4 linked regions of the Homo sapiens genome follow. The protein of the gene in region 3 interacts with the protein of the main gene of each other region in a biochemical or structural test. Each region holds a gene or a part of one and is shown on either strand. Other genes may lie near its edges. The genes, in order: FBP1, BRAP, DNMT1 and L3MBTL3.

The links.
Region 1: the proteins of DNMT1 (region 3) and FBP1 form a complex in vitro, tested with the Homo sapiens proteins (one study listed by BioGRID).
Region 2: the proteins of DNMT1 (region 3) and BRAP form a complex in vitro, tested with the Homo sapiens proteins (one study listed by BioGRID).
Region 4: the proteins of DNMT1 (region 3) and L3MBTL3 form a complex in vitro, tested with the Homo sapiens proteins (one study listed by BioGRID and IntAct).

Annotation. Positions count from the first base shown.
Region 1 is NC_000009.12:94,629,499-94,636,520, forward strand, and holds part of FBP1 (fructose-1,6-bisphosphatase 1), read right to left. Parts: intron 1-7,022. UniProt on the Homo sapiens protein: Catalyzes the hydrolysis of fructose 1,6-bisphosphate to fructose 6-phosphate in the presence of divalent cations, acting as a rate-limiting enzyme in gluconeogenesis. Plays a role in regulating glucose sensing and insulin secretion of pancreatic beta-cells.
Region 2 is NC_000012.12:111,682,935-111,690,388, reverse strand, and holds the start of BRAP (BRCA1-associated protein), read left to right. Parts: upstream 1-4,432; 5' UTR 4,433-4,596; coding exon 4,597-4,678; coding exon of another isoform or gene 4,679-4,801; intron 4,802-7,081; coding exon 7,082-7,243; intron 7,244-7,454. UniProt on the Homo sapiens protein: Negatively regulates MAP kinase activation by limiting the formation of Raf/MEK complexes probably by inactivation of the KSR1 scaffold protein.
Region 3 is NC_000019.10:10,191,934-10,198,873, reverse strand, and holds the start of DNMT1 (DNA (cytosine-5)-methyltransferase 1), read left to right. Parts: upstream 1-3,920; 5' UTR 3,921-3,974; coding exon 3,975-4,054; intron 4,055-6,940. UniProt on the Homo sapiens protein: Methylates CpG residues. Preferentially methylates hemimethylated DNA. Associates with DNA replication sites in S phase maintaining the methylation pattern in the newly synthesized strand, that is essential for epigenetic inheritance.
Region 4 is NC_000006.12:130,014,021-130,021,594, reverse strand, and holds the start of L3MBTL3 (lethal(3)malignant brain tumor-like protein 3), read right to left. Parts: upstream 3,015-7,574; 5' UTR 2,931-3,014; exon of another isoform or gene 2,851-2,930; intron 2,795-2,850; exon of another isoform or gene 2,641-2,794; intron 2,536-2,640; exon of another isoform or gene 2,358-2,535; intron 2,275-2,357; exon of another isoform or gene 2,132-2,274; intron 1,952-2,131; exon of another isoform or gene 1,882-1,951; intron 1,331-1,881; exon of another isoform or gene 927-1,330; intron 869-926; exon of another isoform or gene 1-868. UniProt on the Homo sapiens protein: Is a negative regulator of Notch target genes expression, required for RBPJ-mediated transcriptional repression. It recruits KDM1A to Notch-responsive elements and promotes KDM1A-mediated H3K4me demethylation.

The sequences.
Region 1 (7,022 bases), on a different chromosome or scaffold from region 3:
AGACGGATAATTAAAGCAACAAGGAAGGATCAGAGCCTGAAGCTGAAGGCACCAGCCTCCAGGAGATCTTCCATGGTGCCAGGAGCCTGGAAAATGTGTGCAAGAGTGAGACACCAGCATTGGTGACATCACATAACCCCCACTCCTGGGGAGGTAGGGGGGAGGGTCTAGTCTCTCAACCCCCACCAAGAGAGGACCGGGAGAGCCCTCAGGCATGGAAGCATGACCTTTATGGGGCATTGTCTTCATGGCCTTAGGAATGGCCCACTCTCTTCTAAGAGCCACTGGGAGGGAGGGCACAGACAGGGCTGCCACCCCTGGAAATGCTACCTAAAACCTCGATCTTAAGAGGCCTGGGCCCAACCTGCTTTGTACAAGAATGCCAAGAGTGGAGGGCCTCTGAGCTCACCTCACCTGTTGGGCCATCCTGAGGATGGCACAGCCCTCTACCTGGGACATTCGAAATTAGAACCTTACAGGCAGCCAGAGGTTTTTCTAGTGAGGTCTGAAGCAAAAGTACAGGGCACCAGGTAAATGCCGAGTGTATACTCCAAGGGGACCGAAACTCTTACATAAACATGGCACATCTGAATGTGCCTCTGGAGGAAGAAAGACCTATCAGTCTTGATCCTGGAAAAAAGAATATTTTGTTCACCATGTATCCTTAGCACCTAGAACAATGCCTGCACATAGTAAGTTCTCAATGTAAATGGATGAATAAATTTAGAGAGTAATAAAAGGATCCAAGAATTCCTAAGATCATAAACTCCATTAGACCCAGTGGTATTGGTAATGCCTGCCTGCATAACCTCTACCATCCAACACTCCCAACTCCTGAAAAAAACCCTCCAGATTAGCATAGCTTCTTGGTAAAAGTGTGTTTGCTGTGCAAACTTAGCGTTAGACAAATGCAATGGCCTTTCACCCGGTTCCTCAGGAAACTAGAGTGTAATGGTCAAGGCCCCAGGCTGGCACTCTACACCACCAGGGTTCCAATCCCAGCTCTGCTCCATGCTCAGCAGCCGGGGAAAGTCACTTAGCATCTGTGACCTCTGGTTCATCTGCAATATGGGAATGTAGTGTGTCTGCTTCATAGTCTACAGAGAGGGGGCATAACTGAGTTGATACAGGTAAAGTGGTCAGAAAAGTGCCTGGTGCATAGGCAAGTGTGCAAGAAATATTACCGTTTCCACCTCTAGCTCCCTTGGCATAACACAACCATGCGGAGAAGCAAGAACTCAGCACCAGAAAGACCTCAGTTCAAATTCTGCCTTTGCTTCTTACTGATGATGTGACATCAAGTTGTGCAAAGCCCCTGAGTGGCTGTTTCTGGCCATGTTTGTGGGGATCATGGATAATGCGCGCGGTGCACCTGGTTCATAGTACTCCCCACCAAGGCAGCCACATGACAATAGAGCCCCGCAGGCATCCACTAAGTAAGTGTGGGTTGATCTGGGGATTGGGGGAAGGGGAGGTATCTCTAAACCAGTTTTGCAGGCAACTTCTTGGAGGACAGCCAATAAGGAACTGGCAAAAGAAGAAAAAAGTGCTCCAAGTTTACATTTGATAAAATCTCACTGGGAATATTATTTATTTGAGATGTTCTTGACATTTCACTTCAATTTTATTCAAATTAGTTGGCCCTGCAGCCCAAGTAAAGTGGAAAAGCACCAGGCAGGGTTGAAGTCTCTGTGTCCTTTCCCTTTCCAGCCCCAGAGATACGAAGGAGCTCTTCCTGGAGTTTGGGGAGCAGAACTCAACTGGAGAAACTGCCTATAATATCTCTTCTTTACTTTTACTGTAAATCCCACTGAAAAATTTAAAGAGCTCTAAGTCATTTTAATTCATATGATGGAGAACACCTTAGAAGCATAGATTAATGTGGCCAGTATTTTGAAATCCTTGGATATTTTAATTAAATTTTAGCATTGTTTTCCAAGTTTACAAATGGTTTCTAAAACAGAATGAACCATTTCACAGCCATGGACTTTGTGACACTGAACATGCAGATTTGTGATGATTGGGGGAGGCTGCCTTCCACAGCATCTCTAAAACACTGAAGGACACAAGGATTGGAGCCAGGGGCTGACAGAACTAGAGCCCTCCAGGGCTGCCTGGATCTGCTGACTTAGGACCATCTCCTCCCGAAGTCACTGTGACTGAGTAACACGATTGCAGCAGCAACACTTCACACAGCACACAGAAGAACCAGACTCGGGCTCGGAACACGCAGCTCAACCAAAAGGGAGGGAGATTATTACTTAATCCTTATCACTAAAGTCAAAGGTAAGACTGGCTTGTTACTGCTTGATTCCATGGTAATCAACCATTTGCCCAGCCAGGAACATCCAAAGGTTCAGAAATACATTGAAGAGGTGCTAGTGAGAGCTGCTTTCAAAGGTCACAAATACCTGCCTCTGCTTGCATTCACCGGGGCCTAAACTGGTAAACAGGATGGAACGTGGCTGTCTGCGCTTCTTTTATGCAAACAAACTTGCAATTTCACTCCTTGGTCATGTGGAGAAGAGAATTCAAGAAACATAAAATAAATCTGGTAAAGTTTCTAAAAGCTTAATGCCAAAAACTGCAAATTGGAAGATAAGCCTAAACGTGTATTAGCTGACGTGTCATTCTAAAACGAAATCTGAAGCTCTTTATTATTTCTTCTGTCAAACAGCTGAGAGGACCCCATATATAAAAGTAACTCTTCTGGACATAATATGAGTCTGATGGGAGGACATTTCCTGCAGCCACTCTTGGGTGCAACATTGTTCTAATATGTAACATGCTAGCCTGGACTCTCTCCCTGCTGATAGCATACAGGCTACTGCTAAGAAATGAAGAACAAAACATGCAAATAAAAGTTTACAAAAAAATGAAAATAAAATAGACCAGGCACGGTGGCTCACACTTGTAAGCCCAGCACTTTGGGAGGCTGAGGCGGGTGGATGACGAAGTGAGGAGTTCAAGACCAGACTGGCCAACATAGTGAAACCCCGTCTCTACTAAAAATACAAAAATTAGTTGAGTGTGGTGGCAGGAACCTATAATCCCAGCTACCTGGAAGGCTGAGGCAGGAAAATCACCTGAACCTTGGAGGTGGAGGTTGCAGTGAACCGAGATCACACCACACCACAGCCCTCCAGCCTGGGTGACAGAGCTAGACTCTGTCTGAAAAATAAAGAAATATAGCCTTCAGGAAAACAATGATATTAATAACATTGGTACCCAATTAGTAAACTTAATTGATCCTCCTACGAGTCTCTGAGGCTGTCTCCATCTTAACAATTGGAGAAACAGGTTCAGTGATGTCACATCAACAGCCCAATCCTCACAGACGTTGAATGGCAGGGCCAGGAATCTAAGCTTGGCTCCATCTCTCTCCAAAACGTGCTCTGAATCCCTGCACATTCCTGTCTGCTAAACTGGTCCAGATCTCCTCCTCTTTTCTCTGCCTCAGGGCAAGCGTGCCAAAACAGACAGGCAAAACAGCCTGCAGCTGGACAGCATCTCCCAACAGATCACCCTCTAACATCTCAAGTTCAGCGTTTCCAAAATGTTGGGATCATCTTCCCTCCTTCCCCAGACTAAAAACCAGCTCCTCCTTGTTTTTGTTTTTGTGTTGTTTTGTTTTGTGGTGGCATGGGCTCTGCATTCAATTGCTAGGACCAGCGATTTCAGAAACTCCCTCACAGCCCTTCTCATCTAATCCATGCTCAGACTTCTTCCAAATCCTTCCTCTCCCCTCCAAGGCTGCAGCTCTGCTGGCTACTCAACTGACGGCTCCCCCTTGCCACTGGTTTTCCCATATCCTATCTTTCGCTCTTCCGATATACTTCCAGCCACACCTTCTCCAGATTTGTCTCCAGTCACGCAACTGCCCCACTCAAAAAACTTTCAAAATCCTTGATCTCTCCTTTTCTATACCCCCAAAAGTGTAAAGTGTTCACCCTTGCCATTTGATGCTTCCCCAATGTACCCACAATTTCACATCCACGAACGCCCTACCATGAGTACTCCATGCTTTGGTCAAATTGAGTGGGCAACTTTTCCAGAAACACTTTCCCACCTCAGGACTCCTCCCCCTGTGACCTCCAGCCTGAACTGCGGTCCAGCCGCCGGGCCTTTTGCTTCCCCTGCACGTGCCCATTCTTGGCGCTCCACAGTCCTTCACCATGAATCGTATTTTTGGCACCTCTATGAAAGCATCTTTCTTTTTTTTTTGAGACGGAGTCTCCCTATGTCGCCCAGGCTGGAGTGCAGTGGCGCGATCTCGGCTCACTGCAAGCTCCGCCTCCCAGATTCACAACATTCTCCTGCCTCAGCCTCCCAAGTAGCTGGGATTACAGGCGCCCGCCACCACGCCCGGCTAATTTTTTTGTATTTTTTGGTAGAGACGGGGTTTCACCGTGTTGGCCAGGATGGTCTCGATCTCCTGACCTCGTGATCCGCCCGACTCGGCCTCCCAAAGCGCTAGGATTACAGGCGTGAGCCACCGCGAAAGCATCTTTCAGACCGGGCGCAGTGGCTCACGCCTGTAATCCCAGGACTTTGGGAGGCCGGGGCGGGCAGATCACCTGAGGTCAGGAGTTTGAGACCAGCCTGACCAACATGGAGAAACCCCGTCTCTACTGAAAATACAAAAAAATTAGCTGGGCTTGGTGGTGGGCGCCTGTAATCCCAGCTATGGGAGGCTGAGGCAGGAGAATGGCATGAACCCGGGAGGCGGAGGTTGCAGTGAGCTGAGATCGCCCCACTGCACTCCAGCAAGGGCAACAGAGCGAGACTCTGCCTCAAAAAAAAAAAAAAGAAAGAAAAAGAAAGCATCTTTCAAAACCTCTATTGCGTGTTAGAACGATACAAATATTTTTTCCTACAGAGTAAACTCTGTGTTGTTCTCGTCTTCTGGAACTTTGTACATGGTGGATGTTCAGTAATATTTTGTTAATTGAATGAAATCAGTGAATTCTTCAGTCAGTGATTTGGAAATGGATACAAAGGGAAGTCAACTCCACAAAACAAAAAACCTGAAGCCACTGGAGCACCACTTTCTCCCAAAGGAATGCAAAGTGGACAACACTCGAATTTGACATTTGAACCACAACTTCATCAGCTTGACTTCAAGTTGCAGACTGTTCTGATCTGCACAGTTTCTCTCCCAAGAGTGGATGGAGGGAGCCAGAAGCCCAGAGGGAAGTCTCCCAGGGCACATTTGCCCAAAGCAATGACTCCTTGGTATCTAAGCCTGAATTCACATCAAAAATGTCGCCTGGCCAACATGGCTAAACCCTGTCTCTACTAAAAATACAAAAATTAGGCCGGGCGCAGTGGCTCACACTTCTAATCCCAGCACTTTGGGAGGCCGAGGCAGGTGGATCACTTGAGGCCAGTTCGACCCTGGTCAACTTGGCAAAATCCCATCTCTACTAAAAATACAAAAATTAGCCAGGTATGGTAGTGTACGCCTGTAATCTCAGCTACTCGGGAAATTGAGGCAGGAGAATCACTTGAACCCGGGAGGCAGAGGTTGCAGTAAGCTGAGATTGCACCACTGCACACCAGCCTGAGTGAGAGTGAGGCCCTGTCTCAAAAAAAAAAAAAAAAAAAAAAAACCAGTTAACTAATAGATGAGATTTAGAGTTTGGTGAATTCTAATTGATTTCTAAAAAATAAAGGAAGAGATGTGTAGTGTGGCCAAAAGACCTCCAATCCGGGGTTCCTGAGATCCCGGCCACAGGCCAAGTCATCTCATCTTCCTCGGTCTCAGGGTCCTCTTCTGTATGAGGAGGTGATAGACTAGCTGACTGTTGAGTCTCTTTCAGTCTAAAACTCAATGATTCCATGAACATTTTAACAGGAGCAATGAAAGTGACTACAATAGCAACTTTAGGTTACACCAGGCTCTGTGCTTAAACTCCTGATGTTTCCATAATGATCCTGGGTGAGCTCCCTAAACTGGCTCCAGTGAGGTTCCTGCAAATCTGCAATCACCCCGTCCCTCTGGGTACATGCTCTTCTAGGTCCGGTCTTCAGCACTAACAAGATCTTTGCAGGAATGCTGGTTTTTCTTTCTGGATTTCAATGCCTGGAATGAATGTAGGTTGGGGGCCTGGCTTGAGAATCATGCTACCTGCCTGATGACATGTGATACTGAAAATGGCCAAACGCTGAACTTCCCACAAGATCACCTCAGTGTCCAGCATCTAGTCCTGTCAGCTACCCCAACAACCAGGCATGCACACCAGTTCCAAGGGTACAGCACTGTAATACCCAAAGGCTAGTAAAAACCAAAGTGCCCCAAAATAGAGAAAAACTTCAATACCTCATGATGTGTGCAGGGGAGCAGCACACAGCAGTTAAAAGGAGGTAGATGTAGATGTCCCGATATTAATGGATGTTTCTTGAATAATGTTAAATAACAAAGCAAACTACAGAAATGTGTATTGTGATCCCATTTTGTCTGCTATTATAGGCATATGTAAATATGTGTTCATGTGTAAACTTATATGACTGTAAAAGAGTATCCGGAAAAATAAGCAGTAAATTATTTGCAGTGGATACCCCATGGGATATATATGGGGTGGGTTTCACTCTTCCCTTGAATTCTTTTGAATGGTTTAAATTTTTGTCAATGAGTGCAACATAGTATTTCTTTAAAACCTGGTATTCACAACTATCTAGTATAAAAGTACACATATTGGCCAGGCACAGTGGCTCATACCTGTAATCCCAGCATTTTGGGAGGCCAAGGTGGGCAGATCGCTTGAGCCCAGGAATTTGAGACCAGCCTGGGCAACATAACAAAACCCCATCTCTACAAAAACACAAAAATTATCCGGCATGGTGGCACATGCCTGTAGTCCCAGCTACAGGGGAGGCTGAGGTGGGAGCACCAATTCAGCCTGGGAGGTTGAGGCTGCAGTGAGCCATTATCACACCACTGCACTCCAGCCTGGGCAACAGAGTGCGACTCTATCTCAAAATAAATAAATAAATAAAACGCATACCTTACGTAGCCAAAA
Region 2 (7,454 bases), on a different chromosome or scaffold from region 3:
CACGTAAGTACTTAACACAAACTTTGTTTCATGCACAAAATTATTTAAAATATTGTATAAAATTACCATCAGGCTAGGTGTATAAGATATATATGAAACATATATATATAAGTGAATTTCATGTTTAGCCTTGGGTCCCAACCCCAAGATATCTCATTATATATACGCAGATATATCAAAATCCAAAATCTGAACTACTTCTGGTTCCAAACATTTGGGACAAGGGATACTCAACCTCTATAAGCACCTAGAGAAAGGACTCTTAAGTGGTAAATCTTGAATATAATGTGTTTCTCATCTATAGTCAGCCCTCTGTATTTGTGAGTTCCACATCTGCAGATTCAGCCAACTACAATAGAAAATATTCGAAGTAAGGCCGGGTGCAGTGGCTCACGCCTGTAATCCCAGCACTCTGGGAGGCCGAGGCGGGCGGATCACAAAGTCAGGAGATTGAGACCATCCTGGCTAACACGGTGAAACCCCATCTCTACTAAAAATACAAAAAATTAGCCGGGCGTGGTGGTGGGCACCTGTAGTCCCAGCTACTCAAGAGGCTGAGGCAGGAGAATGGTGTGAACTGGGGAGGCGGAGCTTGCAGTGAGCCGAGATGGTGCCACTGGACTCCAGCCTGGGCAACAGAGTGAGACTCCATCTCAAAAAAAAAAAAAGAAGAAAATATTTGAAGTAAAACAAAACAAAACAAACACACACAGTAAGGGCACAGTAACTGACGCCTGTAATCCCAGAACTTTGGGATGCTAATGTAGGCGGATCACCTGAGGTCGAGAGTTCGAGACCAACCTGGTCAACATTGTGAAGCCCCGTCTCTACTAAAAACACAGAAAAAAAATTAGCCAGGCGTGGTGGCGCACACCTGTAATCCCAGATACTCGGGAGGCTGGGACATGAGAATCACTTGAACCAGGGAAGTGGAGGTTGCAGTGAACCAAGATTGCACCACTGCACTCCACATTCCAGCCGGGGTTATAGAGTGAGACTCCATCTCAAAAACAAACAAAAACCAACAAAAATAACAACACAACAATAAAAAATGCAAACAAAAAATACAGGTTAACAACTATTTATTTACACAGTACTTACACTGTTTTAGGTATACATACATATATATGCATGTATATATATTTATATATTTTGATATGGATATGATTTGATATATATATTAAATATATATATTTTTTGATATGGAGTCTCCCTCTGTCACCAGGCTGGAATGCGGTGGCATGATCAGAGCTCACTGCAACCTCCACCTCCTGGGTTCAAGCGATTCTCCTGCCTCAGCCTCCCGAGTAGCTGGGATTACAGGTGCGTGCCACCACGCCTGGCTAATTTTTGTGTTTTTACTGGAGACAGGATTTCACCATGTTGGCCAGAATGGTCTCGATCTCTTGACCTCATTATCCACCCACCTTGGCCTCCCTAAGTGCTGGGATTACAGGCGTGAGCCATCGTGCCCAGCCAGTATTATAAGCAATCTAGGGATTACTTAACTCATATCTTGCTTGCCCTGAGAATACTGTGCTGGCAGCGAGCTGCACTTTTTTTGCTTTCTTTTTTTTGTTTTGTTTTGAGACGGAGTCTTGCTCTGTCGCCCAGGCTGGAGTGCAATGGTGTGATCTCGGCTCACTGCAACCGCCTCCCAGGTTCAAGCTATTCTCTTGCCTCAGCCTCCCGAGTAGCTGAGACTACAGGCGCTCGCCACCACATCCAGCTAATTTTTTGTATTTTTATAGTGGAGACGGGTGTTAACCATGTTGGCCAGGCTGGTCTCGAACTCCTGACCTCAAGTGATCCACCGGCCTCGGCCTCCCAAAGTGCTGGGATTGCAGGCGTGAGCCACCACACCAAGTCAAGTACTTTTTTTTTCTAAATGGGAAATGGGTTAAAGCATATAGGAGGGTGTACATAGGTTATAAACAAATGCTACACCATTGTATATCAGGAACTTGAGCATCCACAGATTTTGGCATCTGCAGGGGGTCCTGCACCCATCTGCTGAGGATACCACCATGCAACGACAGTAATTGGAAATTTGCTGAATTTGGGGGCAATATTTGAAACTAAAAATGTCAAGGTTCATTTGCATTTTCAGTTTTACTTAACGTTCCTATGCCAAGGCCAATGTTTATGATAGAAAGAGAAATTTACTTACACACTTGTATATTTTGTGTGAGGGCTTAGTAGAGACGAAAAATGCCTTTGGGGGGGCCGGGCGCGGTGGCTCACGCCTGTCATCCCAGCACTTTGGGAGGCCGAAGTGGGCGGATCACAAGGTCAGGAGTTCGAGACAAGTCTGACCAACATGGTGAAACCCTATCTCTAAAAAAAAATACAAAAATCAGCTGGGTGCAGTGCTGTGTGCCTGTAGTCCCAGCTACTTGGGAGACTGAGGCAGGAAGCTTGAACCCAGGAAGCCGAGGTTGCAGTGAGCCGAGATGGCACCACTGCACTCCAGCCTGGGCGACAGAGTGAGACTCCGTCTCAAAATACAAAAAAAAAAAAAGGTTTGTTTGGTAAAGAGATAAAGAATGTTCGTTCTGGATTCAGATTGCCTGAATTTCAGTTCCAGCTCTGCCACTACTACCTGTGAAATCCTGAGCCAGTTACTCTTCCTCCAAGCCTCAGGTTACTCCTCTGTAGAACAGGGACATAGTACCAGTTTCATAAAGTTGTTGTGACCATTGCATGACACAAGGTATATGAAACACTCAAATTAGTACCTGGCACATGTTGAAATGTTATCTACTATAGTAATATACTAAAAAAGTTCACAAGAGGTCTCATAGGTTTTATGCATACAGTATGTGTGTATGGTTTATGCACTTTCACATAACCCTGTGATTCTTCAACAGGGTTATGTTTTCTAACCCCAAGGAGACATCTGGAAAGGTCCAGAGACATTATTGGTTGTCACCACCTGGGGAGAGGTGCTACTGACATCTAGTGGGTCAGGCCAGGGATGTTTCTAAACACTCTACAATGCTCAGGACACCCCGCCCCCTTGCCAAAAACAAAAAAGAATAATCAGGACCCAAAATGTTAATAGTGCAGAGTTGAGAAACCCTGATTTAAACAGGGCATATGGAAACGTATTTCATAGGATGTAGTCACAAGATCTATATACGCATGTATCTTGTGGTCATGTCATAGTCCAGATACACACACATCTAGAACGCACTATGTCCACACACACACACATCTAGAATGTACTATGTACTTACATATGTATCATTATACAATGTACCTAGAGTAGCATCCTGTCATGTATGTGTCCCATATGCATTGATTGTGTCAGTATCTACATACAAAAGCCACTCTGACATACTGGAAAGAATGCTGAGCCTCAGAAAAGCTAATGTTATCTCCATATACATAATTCCATTTCATCCTCACAACTGCATGAGGACATGATATCATGCCAACTTTATGCAATGACTATACTAGTTCAAGACTGCACAACTGCTGATGTAGGTCAACCTCATAGTACGGACAGGAACTGTGTTTATCTTATACGCCAACGTATCTCAAGCATCCCAAGGGTGTCTAGACTCTCAGTAAACATTTGTGAAGTGACAGGGTGGGGAGGAGGACCCCGGTCTAACTGCAGCACTATGCTCGTAACCAGCAGATCACCATCTTTTCTCTCTTTTTTTTGAGACGGAGTTTCGCTCTTGTTGCCCAGGCGGGAGTGCACTAGCACTATCTCGACTCACTGCAACCTCCGCCTCCCGGGTTCAAGCGATTCTCCTGTCTCAGCCTCCCAAGTAGCTTGGACTACAGACGCGCGCCACCAAGCCCGGCTAATTTTTTGTATGTTCAGTAGAGACGAGGTTTCACCATGTTGGCCAGGTTGGTCTCGAACTGCTGACCTGAGGTGATTCGCCCGCCTAAGCCTCTGGGCTGGGATTACAGGCGTGAGCCACCGCGCCCAGCCAGATCGCTATCTGAACAGCGATCGACTCTCCACTCTCTACGGCCCCTTAGAAGGAACTTCACCTCTCTGAGCCTCGTTGTACCTATCTGTAAAGTGGGACAGAAACAAAACCATCCAGACTAGGGTTAGAGACAGGAGTCAAACACAACAAAAGGGGCAAAGTTCTGCATAGCAGATAGCTCGGACAATTCGGAGACCTCGCGGAGCCAGGGATCCCGCGCCGTCAGCCGAGGTGGATTAGGACGAGGCCTCTGGAGCAAGCAGAGGTTAACTCGCGACTGTGCGAAAACCTGCAGCTCAGCCTAAGTGTGGCACCCCAGCGCAAGCAATCTCCACGACGTCCTTCCGCTCCGACCTCCTCAAAATTGCGTCCGGAAGAGCAGTGGGTGACCCCTGCCACGCCGCCCAATCGCTGTGCGCGGTCCTGCGCGCATGCGTAAACCGCAGGTCAGCGACGGCGGCCGGGAGGCGGAAGTGGAGGTTGTTGTGGCTCCGAGGGCTGTTCGAGGAGCTGCTGCTGCTGAGGCGGCGGCAACTGCATTGAGGTGGTGGCGGCGCTGCCGGCCCCGGGCCGCTCGGCCTCTCGGCTCGCCTTCCAGCCTCGCCTGAGCCCGCCGGGGCCCGCGCCGGCCAGCGCCTGCCCTATGAGTGTGTCACTGGTTGTTATCCGATTGGAGCTCGCGGAACACTCGCCTGTCCCCGCCGGCTTCGGCTTCAGCGCCGCGGGTGAGTCCCGCGGCCTCGCCGCATTCCCTGTAGCCGGGTCTGGGCCCGGAGGGCTTCCCTTCCCAAAGCACTGGCCCGGGAAAAGCCCGCGGCGAGGGCTGTTGCCCAGGAAGACACGGAGAGGTAATCGGGATCCCTCTCTTTCCCATCCGCCTTTGAGAGGCCTTCCCGTTTGTTATCTCAGGGAAGCCCTGCCCCGAACCTCCCTCCCTGTGCCGTCTGAGGGCATTTAGTTTATACCTGGCGCGTCTCCCTCTCGAGATAGTCGAGTGGTGTGTTTGTCTCACTTGCTTCCCTATGGGCTTCGTAAAGGCAGGGACTGGGTCCCCAGCAACGCTGGACGGTCCCTGGGTTAATTAAATTGTTCCCTTTTGGAACGATATCCATTGAAGTGCCCCCTAACCATAGTCATAACTAAAATTTGGACACTTCCTATATCCCAGCACTGTACTAAGCACCTTTTGTGTATTGTATTCTTTAATTATCTTTGCAACAGCCCTAAGAGGCAGATGGATGTGACATGTACCTCTTACACATTGGGAAACTGAAGCTTAGTGATTAATTGATTTGCCCAAGGTTATCTGTAATGGGTGAAACTGGGATTCTAACTCAGTGAGCTGGACTTGAGTCTGAGCTTTTTACACCATTAACACAAGTGAGGAAGCTCCTTAGTGGGGAATGCAGCTCTGGCTCTGTTCCTTGGTCCTCAGATAATTAACTAACATTCATTCAAGAAATACTTGGCCGGGCGCGGTGGCTCACGCCTGTAATCCTCACACTTTGGGAGGCCGAGGCGGGCGGGTCACCTGAGGTTGAGAGTTCAAGACCAGCCTGGCCAACATGGTGAAACCCTGTCTGTACTAAAAATACAAAAATTAGCTGGGCGTGGTGACAGGTGCCTGTAATCCCAGCTACTGGGGAGGCTGAGGCAGGAGAATCGCTTGAACCCGGGAGGTGGAGGTTGCGGTGAGCCAAGATTGTGGCACTGCACTCCAGCCTGGGCGACAAGAGATAAAGTCCATTTCAAAAAAAAAAACAAAAAAAAAACTTATGCTCATATCTGCTGGAGCCTTCCTTGTGTGCTGAATCAGACAGCGTCTCTGTTTTAATGGCACCAGCAGTATCATGGAGGAAACAGATGAATTAAATAAGTGCAGAATATGTGTAGAATTACAACTGTGGTAAGTGCTGTGAAGGAAAGGAGAAACAATTTGGGAAAGTATTACAAGAAGATGTGTTTGGTTTGGAGAGAGGGATGGGGGCAGGTAGGGATGGTGTCATTGGGAACTTCCTGAGGACGTGACCTTTGAAGCTGCAAATTAAAGATTGAATATGACTTTATAGCTTATGAGCACCTTTCCAAAGGCTAAAAGTGGCTTCTGAGTTCTGAGAGTCAGCTAAATTGATATTAGCCGCATATAGACATCTGCATGGGTCAGTCATGTAGTCATTTATTCATCAAACATTTAGAGGGCTTCCTCTGTGTGCTCGGCACTGTGGTATAAGGGCTGGGAATACAGTGGTGGGCAAAACAGGCCTTGTCCCTGCCCTGACAGAGCATGTATTAGGGATATTTCAGTTAAGTCTCCAAATTCCGTTTCCCTTTTCATGTGTTTCATTGATTTAAGACAGTAATCACAGATGTTCATGGCTTGGTTCATGGCATGAGCATAAGCCAGGATGTTTAAGACTACCCCTACAAGTTTTTGAAATTTTGTTTTTTTAATGGACTTGATAGCTTCATTTTGGGCTGAACACAATTTCATTTTATCAGGTGTTACTAAAATGTTAGCTCATCTGGGCATGATCACTGTTGCATCTTCTCTAAGGCTCCCTCTTTGGCGATTTGCTTTAAAGTGCATGATTTTGGGCCAGGCGCAGTGGCTCAAACCTGTAATTCCAGCGCTTTGGGAGGTCAAGGCGGGTGGATCACTTTGAGGCCAGGAGTTCGAGACCAGCCTGTCCAACATGGTGAAGCCCCATCTCTACTGAAAGTACAAAAATTAGCTGGGCGTGGTGGCACGTGCCTGTAATCCCAGCTACTCGGGAGGCTGGGGCAGGAGAATCACTTGAACCTGGGAGGTGGAGGTTGCAGTGAGCCAAGATCACACCACTGCACTCCAGCCTGGGTGACAGAGTGAGACTCTGTCTCAAAAAATAAAAATAAAGTGCATGATTTCAGTAGAACAGCCCTGCATTTCTGAGTATATTGTCCTGGCTGCTTATTGACTCTTTGCTGTGTACTGCAGTGGTCCCAGAGTTGAGTGAGATGGATACTACAAAGGCTTCTTATCATCTTGGCGGAAGGCAGGAGAAAGAAAAGGAAAACCTAATGATAGAGGAATAGAGAACAGAGAGGAGCTTGTTTTATTACCTTGTATTAATCATTCATGTGTTCTTTAGCCGGGGAAATGTCTGATGAGGAGATAAAAAAGACGACACTAGCCTCAGCTGTAGCCTGTTTAGAAGGCAAGTCACCAGGAGAGAAAGTAGCGATTATCCATCAGCATCTCGGCCGTCGAGAAATGACAGATGTGATCATTGAGACCATGAAGTCCAACCCAGGTATGCTTTCTAAAACCCTGGACTCTCTTTTGTAATGTGAACACTGGTTGCCTATTTTATACACGGTGTTTGATGAGCCTACAATTTCAACATCTAGCATACTTTTGTCTTTCACTACGTGTGTGCTTTATATGACACTGTTAAGCCACATGTTAGTGTTTCCAAATATTTCTTCCAAATTAATCCTAACAGTTGGAGTTGACAATTCAGT
Region 3 (6,940 bases):
ATTTTTTCTTTTCTTTTGTTTTTTGGAGACGGAGTTTCACTCTTGTCACCCAGGCTGGAGTGCAATGGTGTGATCTCAGCTCACTGCAACCTCCACCTCTCGGGTTCAAGCAGTACTCTTGCCTTAACCTCCTAAGTAGCTGGGATTACAGGTGCATGCCACCATACCCAGCTAATTTTGTATTTTTACTTTTATATTATTTATTTATTTATTTATTTATTTATTTTGAGATGGAGTTTCCCTCTTGTTGCCCAGGCTGGAGTACAATGGTGTAATCTCAGCTTACCTCAACCTCCACCTCCAGGGTTCAAGCAATTCTCCTGCCTCAGCCTCCGGAGTAGCTGGGGTTATAGGCATGAGCCACTATGTCCAGCTAATTTTGTATTTTTAGTAGAGATGGGGTTTCTCCATGTTGGCCAGGCTGGTCTCGAACTCCTGACCTCAGGTGATCCACCCGCCTTGGCTTCCCAAAGTGTTGGGATTACAGGTGTGAGCCACTGCACCTGGCCATTTTTTCTTTTTTAAAGACTGAATTAGGCTGGGTGCAGTGGCTTACACCTGTAATCCCAGCGCTTTGGGAGGCCAAGGCCAGCAGATCGCTTGAGCTCAGGAGTTTGAGACCAGCCTGGGCAACATGGAGAAATCCTGTCTCTACAAAAAATATAAAAAGTTAGCCCATTGTGGTGGCACATACCTGTAGTCCCAGCTACTTAAGAAGCTGAGGTAGGAGTATGCCTTGAGCCCAGGAGTTTGACACCTGCCTGGGCAACACAGCAAGACCCCATCTCTTAGCAGCAATATGATCTTTTTTTTTTTTTTTCCTGTCTCTTGGCTGTTGTGACTAATGCTGCAATGAAGACGGGTATGCAAATATCTCTTTAAGATCCTCTTTTCAATTCTTTTGAATTTATATCCAGAAATGGGATTGCTGGATCATATGATAATTCTATTTTTAATTTTTTTGAGGAACTTCCATGCTGTTTCTCATAGCAGCTCCACCATTTTATTCGACTCTCAACCGTGCACAAGGGTTCCAGTTTCTCCACATCTTCACCAACACTTATTATTTGACAGTGGCCATTCTAAGGGGTCTTAGGGATATTTCATTGTGGTTTTGATTTGCATTTCCCTGATGACCAGTGATGTTGAGCATCTTTTCATATGCCTGTTTTCTATTTGCATATCTCCTTTGGGAAAGTATGTATTCAAATCATTTGCTCTTTTTGTTTGTTTTTGAGACGGAGTCTCGCTCTGTTGCCCAGGCTGGATGGAGTGCAGTGGTGCAATCTCGGCTTGCTGCAAGCTCCACCTCCTGGGTTCACACCATTCTCCTGCCTCAGCCTCCTGATTAGCTGAGACTACAGGCGACTGCCACCACGCCTGGCTAATTTTTTGTATTTTTAGTAGAGATGGGGTTTCACCACGTTAGCCAGGATGGTCTCGATCTCCTGACCGCGTGATCCGCCTGCCGCCTGGGCCTCCCAAAGTGCTGGGATCACAGGTGTGAGCCACCGCACCCAGCCCATTTGCTCATTTGTAAATCGAGTTTTTGTTGTTGCATTGTAGAAATTTATTATTTTTTAAATTTTTATTTGAGACAGAGTTTCTCTCTTGTTGCGCAGGCTGGAGCGCAATGGTGCAATCTCGGCTCACTGCAACCTCCGCATCCCAGGTTCAAGTGATTCTCCTGCCTCAGCCTTCCGAGTAGCTGGGATTACAGGCACACCACCATGCCCAGCAAATTTTTATATTTTGAGGAGAGACAGGGTTTCACCATGTTGGCCAGGCTGGTCTCAAACTCTTGACCTCAGGTGATCCACCCGCCTTGGCCTCTCAAAGTGCTGGGATTACAGGCGTGAGCCACCAAGCCTGACGGGTAGTAATTTATTTTTTATATAATTTTTTTCTTCTTTTTTTGGTAGAGACGAGGTTTTGCCATGTTGCTCAGGCTGGTCTAAAACTACCGGGCTCAAGTGATCTGCCTACCCGGGCCTCCCAAAGTGCAGGGATCACAAGCATGAACCACCATGCCTGGCTGTAATTTTTCATATATTCCGGATATTAACCCTTTACCAGATAATACAGTTTGCAAACTTTTTTTTTCCCCATTCTGTAGGTTGCCTTTTCACTGTTGGTCATTTCTTTTGCTGTATAGCTATCCTTAAGTTTGTTGCAAACCCATTTGTCTATCTTTTGTCTTGTTGCCTGTGTTTTGCTGTCATATCCAAGAAATCATTGCCAAATCCATTGTCATGAAGCTTTTCCCCATGTTTTCTTCTAGGAGCACTATAGTTTCAGGTCTTATGTTTAATCTTTAATAAGTTTTGTGTTTTTGTATATGGTGTAAGGTAAGGGTCCAACTTCATTCTTTTGTATGTGGTTATACAGTTTTCTCAGCACCATTTGTTAAAGACACAATCTTTCCCCCATGTTCTGGTGCTTTAAAAAAAAAAAAAATTCTGGCTGGTTACGGTGGCTTAGGCCTATAATCCCAGCACTTTGGGAGGCTGAGGCAAGTGGACTGCTTGAGGCTAGGAGTCCCAGACTAGCCTGGCCAACATGGTGAAACCCTGTCTCTACCACCGAAGATACAAAAATTAGCCAGGCGTGGTGGAGTACGCCTGTAATCCCAGCCTACTAGGGAGGCTGAGGCATGAGAATCGCTTGAACCTGGGAGGCAGAGGTTGCAGTGAGCCAAGATCTCACCACTGCACGCCAGCCGGGGTGACAGAGTGAGGCAGGGTCTTACCCTGTCGCCCAGGCAGGAGTCCAGTGGCCCAATCATGGCTCATTGCAGCCTACACTGCCAGGGTTCAAGCCATCCTCCCACCTCAGCCTCCCAAGTAGCTAGGATTACAGGTGTGTGTCACCATGCCCAGCAAATCTTTGTATTTTTTGTAGAGATGGGGTATCCCTATGTTGCTCAGGCTGGTCTTGAACTCCTAACCTCAAGCGATCCTCCCACCTGGGCCTCTCAAAGCACTGGGATTACAGGCGTGAGCCACTGCGCCTGACATGGTGCTTCTTAATTTATTCTTACTTTTTATTTTTATTTTTTTGAGACAAGGTCTTGCTCTGTCTCCCAGGCTGGAATGTAGTGGTACAATCATGGCTCACTGCAACCTCTGCCTCTCCGGTTCAAGTGATCTTCCTGCCTCAACCTCTGGAGTAGTTTGGACTATGGGCACATGCCACAACGACTAGCTAATTTTTGTTTTTCTTTTTTTCTTTCTTTCTTTCTTTCTTTTTTTTTTTTTTTGAGATGCAGTTTCTCTATGTTACCTAGGCTGGTCTAAAACTCCTGGGCTCAAGCGATCCTCCCACCCTGGCCTCCCAAAGTGCTGGGATGACAGGCGTGAGCCACGTGGTGCTTAAAAAAGGCAACAAAAAACCCCCCACACACTGGGTATAGAAGTGGCATGGGCCTCTATACACTGTGAGATTCTTGGTACTAGCTACAAATTCTGTGTATACTCAAGATTTTCTAGAGTAGGTGCAATTACCCCGTTTTACAGATGAGGACACAGAGGCTGAGCCGTAGTGACCCACCTAAGGTCGTATAGCCAGCAAATAGATGGAGGTTGGATTGGAACTGAGGACTTTACTCAAGGGCTCTCACAAACCCTTGGGGGCTTCTCGCTGCTTTATCCCCATCACACCTGAAAGAATGAATGAATGAATGCCTCGGGCACCGTGCCCACCTCCCAGCAAACCGTGGAGCTTGGACGAGCCCACTGCTCCGCGTGGGGGGGGTGTGTGCCCGCCTTGCGCATGCGTGTTCCCTGGGCATGGCCGGCTCCGTTCCATCCTTCTGCACAGGGTATCGCCTCTCTCCGTTTGGTACATCCCCTCCTCCCCCACGCCCGGACTGGGGTGGTAGACGCCGCCTCCGCTCATCGCCCCTCCCCATCGGTTTCCGCGCGAAAAGCCGGGGCGCCTGCGCTGCCGCCGCCGCGTCTGCTGAAGCCTCCGAGATGCCGGCGCGTACCGCCCCAGCCCGGGTGCCCACACTGGCCGTCCCGGCCATCTCGCTGCCCGACGATGTCCGCAGGCGGTAGGTACCATGGGGGGGAACACGGACTCAGGGGGACAGGCAGGGCGCTGGGTGGGGGGTCGCTTCCCCTCGGGGTGGCCGGTGGCCGCTGCTGACAGACGGGCGCGCATGCGTGGGGTGGTGCGGCGCGCAGCGGCAGTTGGCGCGGGCAGGGTGGCACTTCCGGTCGCGCGTGCCCGGGCTGTTTGGCGCCAAAATGGACCGTGGATTCCCCCGTAGCTCCCTGGTGGCTAGAAACTAGGCGGGGTGGGGGTTCTCTTTTGATCCCCAAATACAGCAAGCTTTGGGTTCGTTTCCGGGGTCCCCTTCTTCAAGCAGCGGTGGGCCGGGCTCTTGACTCCAGCTTGGTCGCACAGGAAGTGGGCAGCCCGCGGCCAACGGACACCCCTCGGGCACCGGCACTTCGGCCTCCACTTCCGGTGTCCGGCCCGGTCCCCGGGGGCGCTTCTGTGGTGGGGGGTCCCTCAGTGCCTTTCCCCCAAAGCTGTGCATCTCGATGGCGGCCTCCAGAGACGGATGTCACCCGTCGGGGCCTGGGCTGGGCTGGCTCATGTTCGAGAGCCCAGCCTTCCGTGGGGTACTCATTCTGTCAGTTGGGACTGTGTGGTTCTTGCTCCTTGGGAAAGTCCATGTTTTGGCAGGAACTTTAACCGTGCATTGCAGCGCAGGGCCCGGGAAGCGTGAAGGCTGCATGGTTGGTCTTTTCCTGTAAATCTGTGCCTGTGAGCCGTGGGCATCAGGGAAGTCTTGCTAATGAGAACTGGCTACACTTTCGTGTGTGTTTGTGTGTGTTCATGGGTGTGTTCTTTAGTGTGTGTCTAATGTTGGAGGCCCTGGCTTTAGCAGTTCATGCCTCTGTCCAACTTCCGTGCACAAGGATCAGTGGGAGCACTGGTCCCAGCCCCTTGTTCATGAACGCCATCAGTTCATTCCTGAAAACTTGTTCAAGTGAGGTGTGCGTGAGTCAGAGGAACCCTCACCAGGCGTGGACACTTCCAGCTGGATTTGTGAAAGCACTCTTTGCCATTTTTCTATTTCCTTAGGCTTGTTAACTGACCTGGTTGGGCCAGTCCGGTTCTGATTTGGGTCTTTGGGGAGGGATGGATATTTGGTTCAACCCCCGCTTTTTTTCTTTTCTTTTTTTTTTTTTTTTTGAAGGCTGGGTGCTGTGGCTTATGCCTGTAATCCCAGCAATTTGGGAGGCAGTGGCGGACGAATCTCTTGAGCCAGGAGTTTGAGACCAGCCTGGGCAACAAGGCAAAACCCCATGTCTACTAAAAATACAAAAATTAGCCTGGAGTAGTGCCGTGCGCCTGTGGTCCCAACTACTCAACAGACTAAGGTGGGAGTATCACTTGAGCCCCAGAGGTTGAGGCTGTGTGTAGCGAGCTGAGATCGCGCTATTGCACTCCAGCCTGGGTGACAGAGTGAGACCCTGTCTCAAAAAAAGAAACACTTTTTATTTTTAGAGATGGGTCTCACTCTGTTGTCCAGGCTGGAGTGCCCTGGCACAATTATAACTCACTGTAGCCTTGAACTCCTGGGCTTAAGGGATCCTCAGCCTCCTGAGTAGCTGGGACCACAGGCGCCCACCACCATGCCCAGATGACTTTCTTAGTTTTTGTTTCTGTATACGTGAGGTTTCACCATATTGCCCAGGCTGGTCTTAAACCCCTGCCCTCAAGCAGTCCTCCTGCCTTTGTGTCCCAAAGGTTAGGATTACAAGTATGAGCCATCATGCCTTAACTACTACTTTTTTTTGTTTGTTTGTTTGAGATGGAGTCTCATTCTTTCACCCAGGCTGGAATGCGGTGGCGTGATCTCGGCTCACTGCAACCTCCACTTTCAGGGTTCAAGTGATTCTCCTGCCTCAGCCTCCGAAGTAGCTGGGATTACAGGTGCACACCACCACGCCTGGCTAATTTTTGTGTTTTCAGTGGAGTCGGGGTTTCTCCATGTTGGTCAGGCTGGTCTCGAACTCCTGACCTCGTGATCCACCTGCCTCAGCCTCCCAAAGTGCTGGGATTATAGTCAAACCACTTCTTAACCAGTTAGTGGGTATATATCTTCTTGAATCATCTGTGCCAGTATTCTCCCAAAATAAAACTTGATTTAAAATGGAATGGAAGTGAAATTATGAAAGTGCCTGGCTTCATGATGTTACACCCAATTCAGAGAAGTTTGGGCCCGGCCTTCCTTTTTTATTCCTTTTTTTTATTTTGTAGAGATGGGGTCTTGCCATGTTGCTCAGGCTGGTCTTCGATTCCTGGCCTCAAGCGATCCTCCTGCCTCAGCTTCCCAAAGTGTTGGGATTACGGGTGTGAGCCACCATGCCCAGCCTGCCCAGCCTTCTTGAAAACATGACCTCCACTGGCTCAATGACCTTAAACAAGCGTATGCCACCTCTATATCCATAGTCTAGGAATAATGACATGGGTTTTCAGCTGGTATTGGGTTAAATGAGAATATGCATGGCACATAAAGGTTCACATGCTAGTGGCTAACTTAGCTTGTTTTTTTCAGTTTTTTTTTAAGAGACAGGATCTCACTGTGTCACCCAGGCTGGAATGCAGTGGCACAGTCATGGCTTACTGCAGCCTTGAACCCCTGAGCTCAAGCAATCCTCCTGCCTTAGCCTCCTGAGTGGCTGGCACATGCCACCATGCCCAAGTTAATCCTTAAAAAATTTTTTAGAAGGCTGGGCGCGGTGGCTCACGTCTGTAATCCCAGCACTTTGGGAGGCTGAGATGGGCAGATCACCTGAGGTCAGGAGTTTGAGACCAGCCTGGCCAACGTGGCGAAACCCCATCTCTACTAAAAATACAAAAAAATTAGCCAGGTATGGTGGCAGGTGCCTGTAATCGCAGCTACTCGGGAGGCTGAGGC
Region 4 (7,574 bases), on a different chromosome or scaffold from region 3:
CTTAACATTCAAAATAAAGTCATCAGCTGAGACTCGTTAATTAAAAATTGATCAGAGGTACAGACACCGATAAATGCAAAAGCAAACAATTGTTTCCAATTCAGGGAGCGATCAATCTCAAATCTCTGAATAAAAGCAAAGTGTCTTTCCCATATAACTCATGTCGGATGGAAGTTACAGGGTCTGAGTCCTCAGAATTCATTGCTTCGATTTACTAAACTTTCAATTTCTGATCAGCATCCTTTCACACAACATCTGGCTGCTCGCTCAGGTCCTCTAATTACTTCCACGTCTGAACGGACTACGTAGCTACGAGTAAAGGCCAAACTTTGCTCTCGGCCTTCCGAACTTAAAAGACGCGTTCAACCACTAGAGGTCTCCCCTTGGCCAGTTTTGCACGTTCGCTATTTTGCTGCACTTGAAACTTTCCGGAGAAATGCTCTCTACTCGAGTCAGTGTTTTTCTAAAAACTTGCGCAAAAATCCACGCGACCGAGATAGCCAGCATAGAGCCTCTCGGACTCCCTAAACCAATAAAGACATCACAAACAACGCTCTAGGAAAACCAAAAGGAGAACTGGACGCACTCGCCCCGGCCGCGCCCCCCCACCCCAAATTCTTATTTCTCATCTCAGTTTCCCCTAACCTAACAATTAAAAATCTATTTTTGTTTCTGTGCACTCTGAATGATCTCGAATGCATTTTTCTGGCGGTGGCCCCGAGGTGGAGAAGCGGGCCAAGGGATGCGAGGCGTTGGGGGTGGGGGCGGTGAGGGGGAGGGCCGTGCTCACAGCGCCCGAGGAAGTTGCCTAAGGAAAGGGACTCCGTTTTTCGGGTCCCCTCAAAAAATCGGCGGGGAGGGGGAGGAAAAGGAAGCGGGGTGGTGGCAGCAGGGGGACTCAGAAGGGAAACCGAAGCAACGTTTACCTCCGTCTCCCGTGGAAGGGTGGGGTAGAGCCGCGGTCCCCGCGCCCTGGAAAGCGGCTAGTTACCCCCACCTCCCTCTGAGCGCGACGGACAGACCGACGCCCCCAGCCCTCCGCGGGGACCCGGGAGGAACACGCCCGCTTTTAAACTTTCTCTCACGGTCGCGCTGCGGGCTGTGCTTTGACCGGGACTGGGGGAGGGGGGAATCGCAGGGCCTTTTTTTCTTTAAAGGTAATTAAAGTTTTACCACCAGTCCAAAAGTTGCGCCCTCCCCCCGCCCGTGCCACCGTGCCCTCCTCCCCTTCCAGGGCTCTCAAGTTTTTCTCCCCGCCCGGCGGCCCCCACACTCCACCAGCTCGCGGGGCGCGCGGCGGATGCCTCGGCTCCTGCGCTTCCCGATCCCCACCCCCGCCGGCCTCTACTTCCCCCCGCCCCGCCGCCGCGGCGCGAGGACGGCCCGCGGGGCCCAGGACGCGAGTGTGCAAAGCCCATTATTCCGGAACCGCACACACACGCGGCGCGAGGCGGGCGGTGGCCCCGGCGCCGGCCCCGGCCCCGACCCCTCTTTTCCTCCCCAGAATAAGGCAGGCGTAAACAAGTTGCAGGAAAAGCAGCCCCGCGCCGCCCCCACCCTCCCCCCACAAGCCCGCCGCCCCGGCGCGGCCGCCGCCGCCGCGACCGCCGCCGCCGCCTCCCGACACACGCCCGCGCCCGCGCCCGCACCCGGGCCGGCGCGGCGCGGCACGGCGCGGGGCGAACGCCGCGACGGCGCGGGCTCCCGGCCCGGCCCGCGGCCCGCGCCCTCTCCCGCGCGGACGGCCGCCGCGGGCCCGCGCCGCCTCGCTTCCCAAAGCACTTTCCTGCCTCGGGCAGAAATAAACCGGAGGGTTTATTTTTGTGCAACTTTCCCAAAATGGCGGAAATTGGAGCTGATCTATATGAAATTCTCACACACTCGGTTGGGAAGAGGGAGGCGGCGAGGAAGCCACGCAAACTCTCGGCCGCCGAGCCCCGCCGCGGGTCCGTGTGTGTGCGTGCGTGTGAGTGTGCGTGTGCGCGGTGGGAGTCGGGCAGGCCTTTCCGCCGCGCACACACACAGCACACGCCGGGGAGACGCGCCTGCACATTCAACCAGTCCATTCTCCGCAGCCCGAAAGGGGAGAAAGTGGCCCGGCCTCTTTTCCCACTGCCTCGGTCTCCCGTACTTGTACTTCTCGCGCTCGCCCGCCCGCTCGCTCGCTCTCCGGTGCGCGCCCGGCACAAAGGCCACACGGGCGGAGGGGGCCGCAGGGGCGGCGCGCGGGGCTCGCGCCTCCCGCCGCACCGATCCGCGGCCCCGGCCGCCCCCGCGCCCCCCGCCGGCGCCCCCCGCCTCGGCGGCCGCGCTCGCCGCCTGGGCTGCGGCTCCGCGGCGCCCACCCGGACACGCACCCCGGTGGAGCCCGGCGCCGCCGCGCTCCCCCACCCCGCGCCCGGTGTCACGAAAGCGACCAAAGTGACAAGCTCGGGGGGCGCGGGGGAGGGGGCCACACGCATCCCGCCGCCTGCGCGCCAGCCTGAGCCCAACGCGGCCGCCTCGCCCCGGCTCCCTTCCGCACGGCCCCCCACACCCTTCCCCGTGTGCGCGCAAAGAAAAAAATACAAGTCTCTCCTCCCCCCATTTTTTCCTTTCTCTTTTCTCTCTCTTTTGTTCCTCTTTCACACTCGCACTCACTACTTCAGAGTGAGATGCCCAGAGACTCCCCCTCCAGCCGTTTCCGAGTCACTTGCCCACTTTTTTCCCCGGGATTAAGTTTTCTCCTCTTTCCCAGAGGCGCAGAGAAGTGGGGGAGAAACCCCTTCTGTCCCTCCCCTCCCCTGATCTGTTTCACAAGACGAGGGTGCGCTTCCTTCCCTCTATAGGGCTCTTAACTTTCATCCTCACCCAGAAAAATAAATGAATGGCTTTTGCACGGACAAATCTTCAGATTAATTAGAGATTAGATCCGATCAACCGCTTCTTACCCCCAAATTTTCTCTTTTTTTTTTCTCCGTCTCACGAGTAGTCCTGACAAATGGTCCAGGGCTGCGGGCGCAATGCGCATGTGCGCGTAGAGTCAGGGCTGGGGAGAGGGGAAACTGCGCTGGTGCCGGTGCCGCCGCCGCCGCCGCCGCTGCCGGGGAGGCTCGCTCTGGCTTCCCTGTTACTGCTGCTGCGCCTTCGCCGCTGGAAAGCAGCAATAAAGCCGGGTGGCAAATGCAGCTGCCCGCAGATCCTGTTTCAGGTGCATCTTTTCAATAGCCCGGTCACCGCCTCAGAGCTGGTTCAAGAACAGTCCAAACAAATAGGAAACACTGCTAAGGTTCCAGATTTCTTTGTCTATTTTTCACTTTACTTTTTTTAAAGGCAATTCTCAGAGCAGCGAATCCACCATGTGCTGTGAAATGTATGCATTCAGCCATTAAAGAGTGGGCCTTAGTCTTGCACAAACACTGCCCAAAGGCTAAATACATGCTACAGGTCATGAAAAGTAACAAAGTTGTAAGCTTTGGGAGAGTACAATCTCCCTCTCTTTGATGGCTGGAACAATGCATAATAAAGAAAGTGTGCATATAAAACTTGTGCCTTCTTTCCGCTTCCTAAGTGCGGATCTTTATTGACAGCTCCAACATGTTAGGCCTCTGTCGAGTAATAGGCTGAGATTCCTACAGTAACTTAGAACACTGTGAAAGTCCCTTGGCAATAAGCAGGTCCAGGACTACCCTCTTAAGGTATTCAGTCAAGATGGCTGAGCGGTCCTAAATGGCAAAACCTGTCTTTGTTAAAGCGTCAAAACTAGATCAAGAGAGTATTACATTTCAGTATTGACAGCTTTCGGCGCATTGACTGCGGGCCGCCGTTTGGACAGCTTCACTGGTCTTTTCCACTTAATAGGAGTACTTACAAAATAATTCGAGTAATTAAAGTTTTGATAAACATTTTGATGTCAATAGCAGAGTTTGCTGTGTGAAAAAAAAAAGCATGTGTGATTTTAGGAATGAGGGAAGCATGTCTTAGATTTTGCGGGGGGGGGGAGGTAAAAGGAAGTTCCCATCCCCAGAGTAGACTATTTTGCATCTAATAAAGGGTAAAGGAGGCCCTTTTCTGAAACTGCTGCCTGAGGCCTAGAATTTAAATATATCACAGATGGAAGTTCTATATTAAAAATCCTTCTCCAGTGTAGGGAATATTATTCTTGATTGAATTTTTTCACTTAAGGAATGTTTCTTGAACCAGTTTCAGAACATAAACTCTTAAATTCTTTCCTTAGGACCATGAAATTACCCTATAGAAGCAGACCACCCGATATATCTAATGTTGGTGTAGTGACCAAATTCTCCAAACCAAAAATCAGGCCATATGCCTTAACATGTACTCCAGAACAAACGGACAAATCCTGTGAAGCTGAAATGAACTTATAAAATGCTTCATACGTTGAACAGCCGTTGGCTGAGGGGTGTGAAGTAGAGAAGGCTGGGTAGTGAGAGCTGTAGATGATCTCAAACCACCAGTTCACTATTGATTTCACCCACCACATTCAACCCTTTTCAGAGCTGTTCCCAAACAGCTTAATTAACTGATCTGAATTTCAGCTTCTCTCCTTTTCTCTCTAGCCCTTGAATAATAAGCAGTGAAATGGCCAAAGGCAAACTGCAGGAGAAGGAAAGAAAGGGCATGAGCTATGTACAAAACTAAGACCTTGCCCCCATGGAAACTAAATTAATTTTAGATTCCTCTTTCTGAAAAATCAATTTTAGATTCCTTCTCTCAAGATAATTTCTAGATGATATTTCTGTTGTACTTATGTTTTCAGTGATACTGGTTCAACAGTCTATAAATGTGTATTAATGGCCTACCTGTGCTAAGTGCTCTGCAAGGTGCTGGGGATAAACAGGTGACCAAAACTAGGCCCCAGCTACAAGAAATTCAGCCTGGTGGAGAGACAGTGTAGTAAATTGGGCATTATGTTACAGTAATGTTATATGGAAAATGTTATAGCAGAGGTATGTAGAGCAAACACAGTTGAGCACCAGTGGCAATAAGGAAAGGCTTTACATTAGAAGTGATGGCTAAGCTGATTCTTGAAGGACAAACATCCAGGGTACATGATGCCATTCTTCTTCCCAGAAGGTGTCTGGGAACATGAACCAATCAGAGAAGTCCTGAGTAAAGGTCCGAGTGTTTCAAGAGCAAGGCTTGCCTAGAAAGTGTACTGACAGAGGTTCACTAACAGAAATAAGGATGACTTGAGGCTCTCTATGATACACTCTTTCTCCTCCGGAGATCATTATTAAAACCTCATCTCAATTTTTCTCAAGATGTGGTTCAGGATAGTAAAGATTTTGAAAGTACTCACTTGTAGGAATAATGACTTTAAAGGCTGCTGTCAAAGTTTTCTACAAAGAATCCTTTGGTGCCACTATCTAAAACAGAGGTAAAATACATTATTAGAAGCTAGGTAACATGATTTTATTCTTCGCATAAATGTGTACTATTTACCAGACCTTTCTCCGTCTGTTCACTAAATAGTAATATACTAGCAGAGGCTTCTTTGCCATCCCTTCCACCTTCCACCATTCACTCACTTGTTAATGATTCATGATGAATGCCTTCTTTCCGGCATCACTTAATCTCATCATCCTCTACCACTCTCCCACCTTCCCATCCCACCCTCCTCCACCCTGCCACATGTAAATACCAAATCCATGCTTCAGGTTCAGGTCTATAACTTCCCTGACGTCCCACACTCAGCTATGAGCTCACTCCTTTATTTTTCTTTATATTTATTTGTTTATATCCAAACTTGTCCACCCCAAAATGATTTCAGGTTACTACATTCCCAAATATTCTGAAGCTAAAGTCATTTTACATAGAAAATGTTTTAAACAAATCACTGTACTCACTCTCCAGAGAATTTTTGAAGCCTCTCATCACCCCATCCCCCACCCTCATGGATGTCATTCAAAACTTCTCACTGTACTCCATCCTGGAATGTCGATGCTGCATGCACTTCATTTTAGAAATCTTAGCTACTGCAGGATGTGGTGGCTCACGCCTGTAATCCCAGCACTTCAGGAGGCCTAGGTAGATGGATCATCTGAGGTCAGGCGTTCGAGACCAGCCCAGCCAACATGGTGAAACCCCGTCTCTACTAAAGATACAAAATTATCTGGGCATGGTGGTGCATGCCTACAATCCCAGCTACTTGGGAGGCTGAGGCAAGAGAATCACTTGAACCCAAGAGGCAGAGGTTGCAGTAAGCCGAGATTGCACCATTGCATTCCAGCCTGGGCAACAAGAGCGAAACTCTGTCTCAAAACAAACAAACAAACAAACAAAAATGCTTAGCACCCTTTTCCTAACACTATGCTTGTCCTGCATTGATAAGACAGGCCCCTCATGTCCTGGAAAAATTCAAGGATTACATTTTCCATGAGCCAGCCCTTCACAAATTGAAAGTGCCCAGGAGTGAAGTCCAAGAGACTGGTGTTCTAATCCAGTTCTGCTACCACCACTGGGAACCATTAGCCATGTCACCTCACGTTTTAGGAGCTTCAGTTCTCTCCCTACTTAGATAAAGTAAACAGAGTAATTGATTTTTTCCCTTTTTTTTCCTTTTAATTGGCCCTGCTTCCTGAAGTTTTTGTTGTTGTGTTTTGGAGGCAGTGGCTTGCTCTGTCACCTGGGCTGGAGTTTAATGGCGCAATCACAGCTCACTGCAGCCTCGACTTCCCAAGCTCAAATGATCTTCCCACCTCAGCCTCCCAAGTAGCTAGGACTACAGGAGCATGCCACCATGCCTGGCTGATGTTTTTTATGTTTTGTAGAGATGGAGATCTCGTTATGTTGCCCTGGTGGTTTCAAACTCCTGAGCTCAAGTGATCCTCCTGCCTCGGCCTCCCAAAGTGCTGGAATTACAGGAATAAGCCACTGCGCTCAGTCTGATTTCTGAAGTCTCCTTGAAAGCCATGTATCTCCCTACTCCTTCTCACATAACAGCAACACAATCATATTTTAGTACAAATAATATGGAACCGAGAAAGGGATTTTTAAGTAAAGAGTAAAGGCTCATCCAATAGGTATCATAATGTTATCAATGAATAGCTCATTCAGCTTGGCTTAAGCCTGGTACTAATGAGATGGAGGTCATGGGTTTCATTCCCTAATGGCTAGTTAGTTTTGATCTGTTTCATAGCCACAGACTGCTTTCCTAACCCCGGTCCCCCATGTTACAATGTGTGCTATTGGTCACAAGTCTTAAGGTAAAATTGAACCTTTCTATAGAAATTTTCTAAAAGAACAATTCTTGAAATCATCCTTTTAATGTATTATCTTACTGTTACATATGAGTCAAGTTATTGATTTTTTTTAGCCTATATAATTGTGTGCTCTGTGTTTTTCCAACTGTAAAAATGATGTTAACATTGATTTGGCCAAAATTCTTATCATTGATATTTGTAAGAGCTGAGTCTGGTCTTCCTGTTAATGTTCTAGATAACACTGAAATGTTCTTATAGTTCTTTTCATTTGAATACCAATCTCTTGCTTGTGATACATCTGTATCCAACACTCAGCACAAAGCTTATGATAGTGAAATGTAATTGAAATGCTGAGGGGGAAAAAAGGGG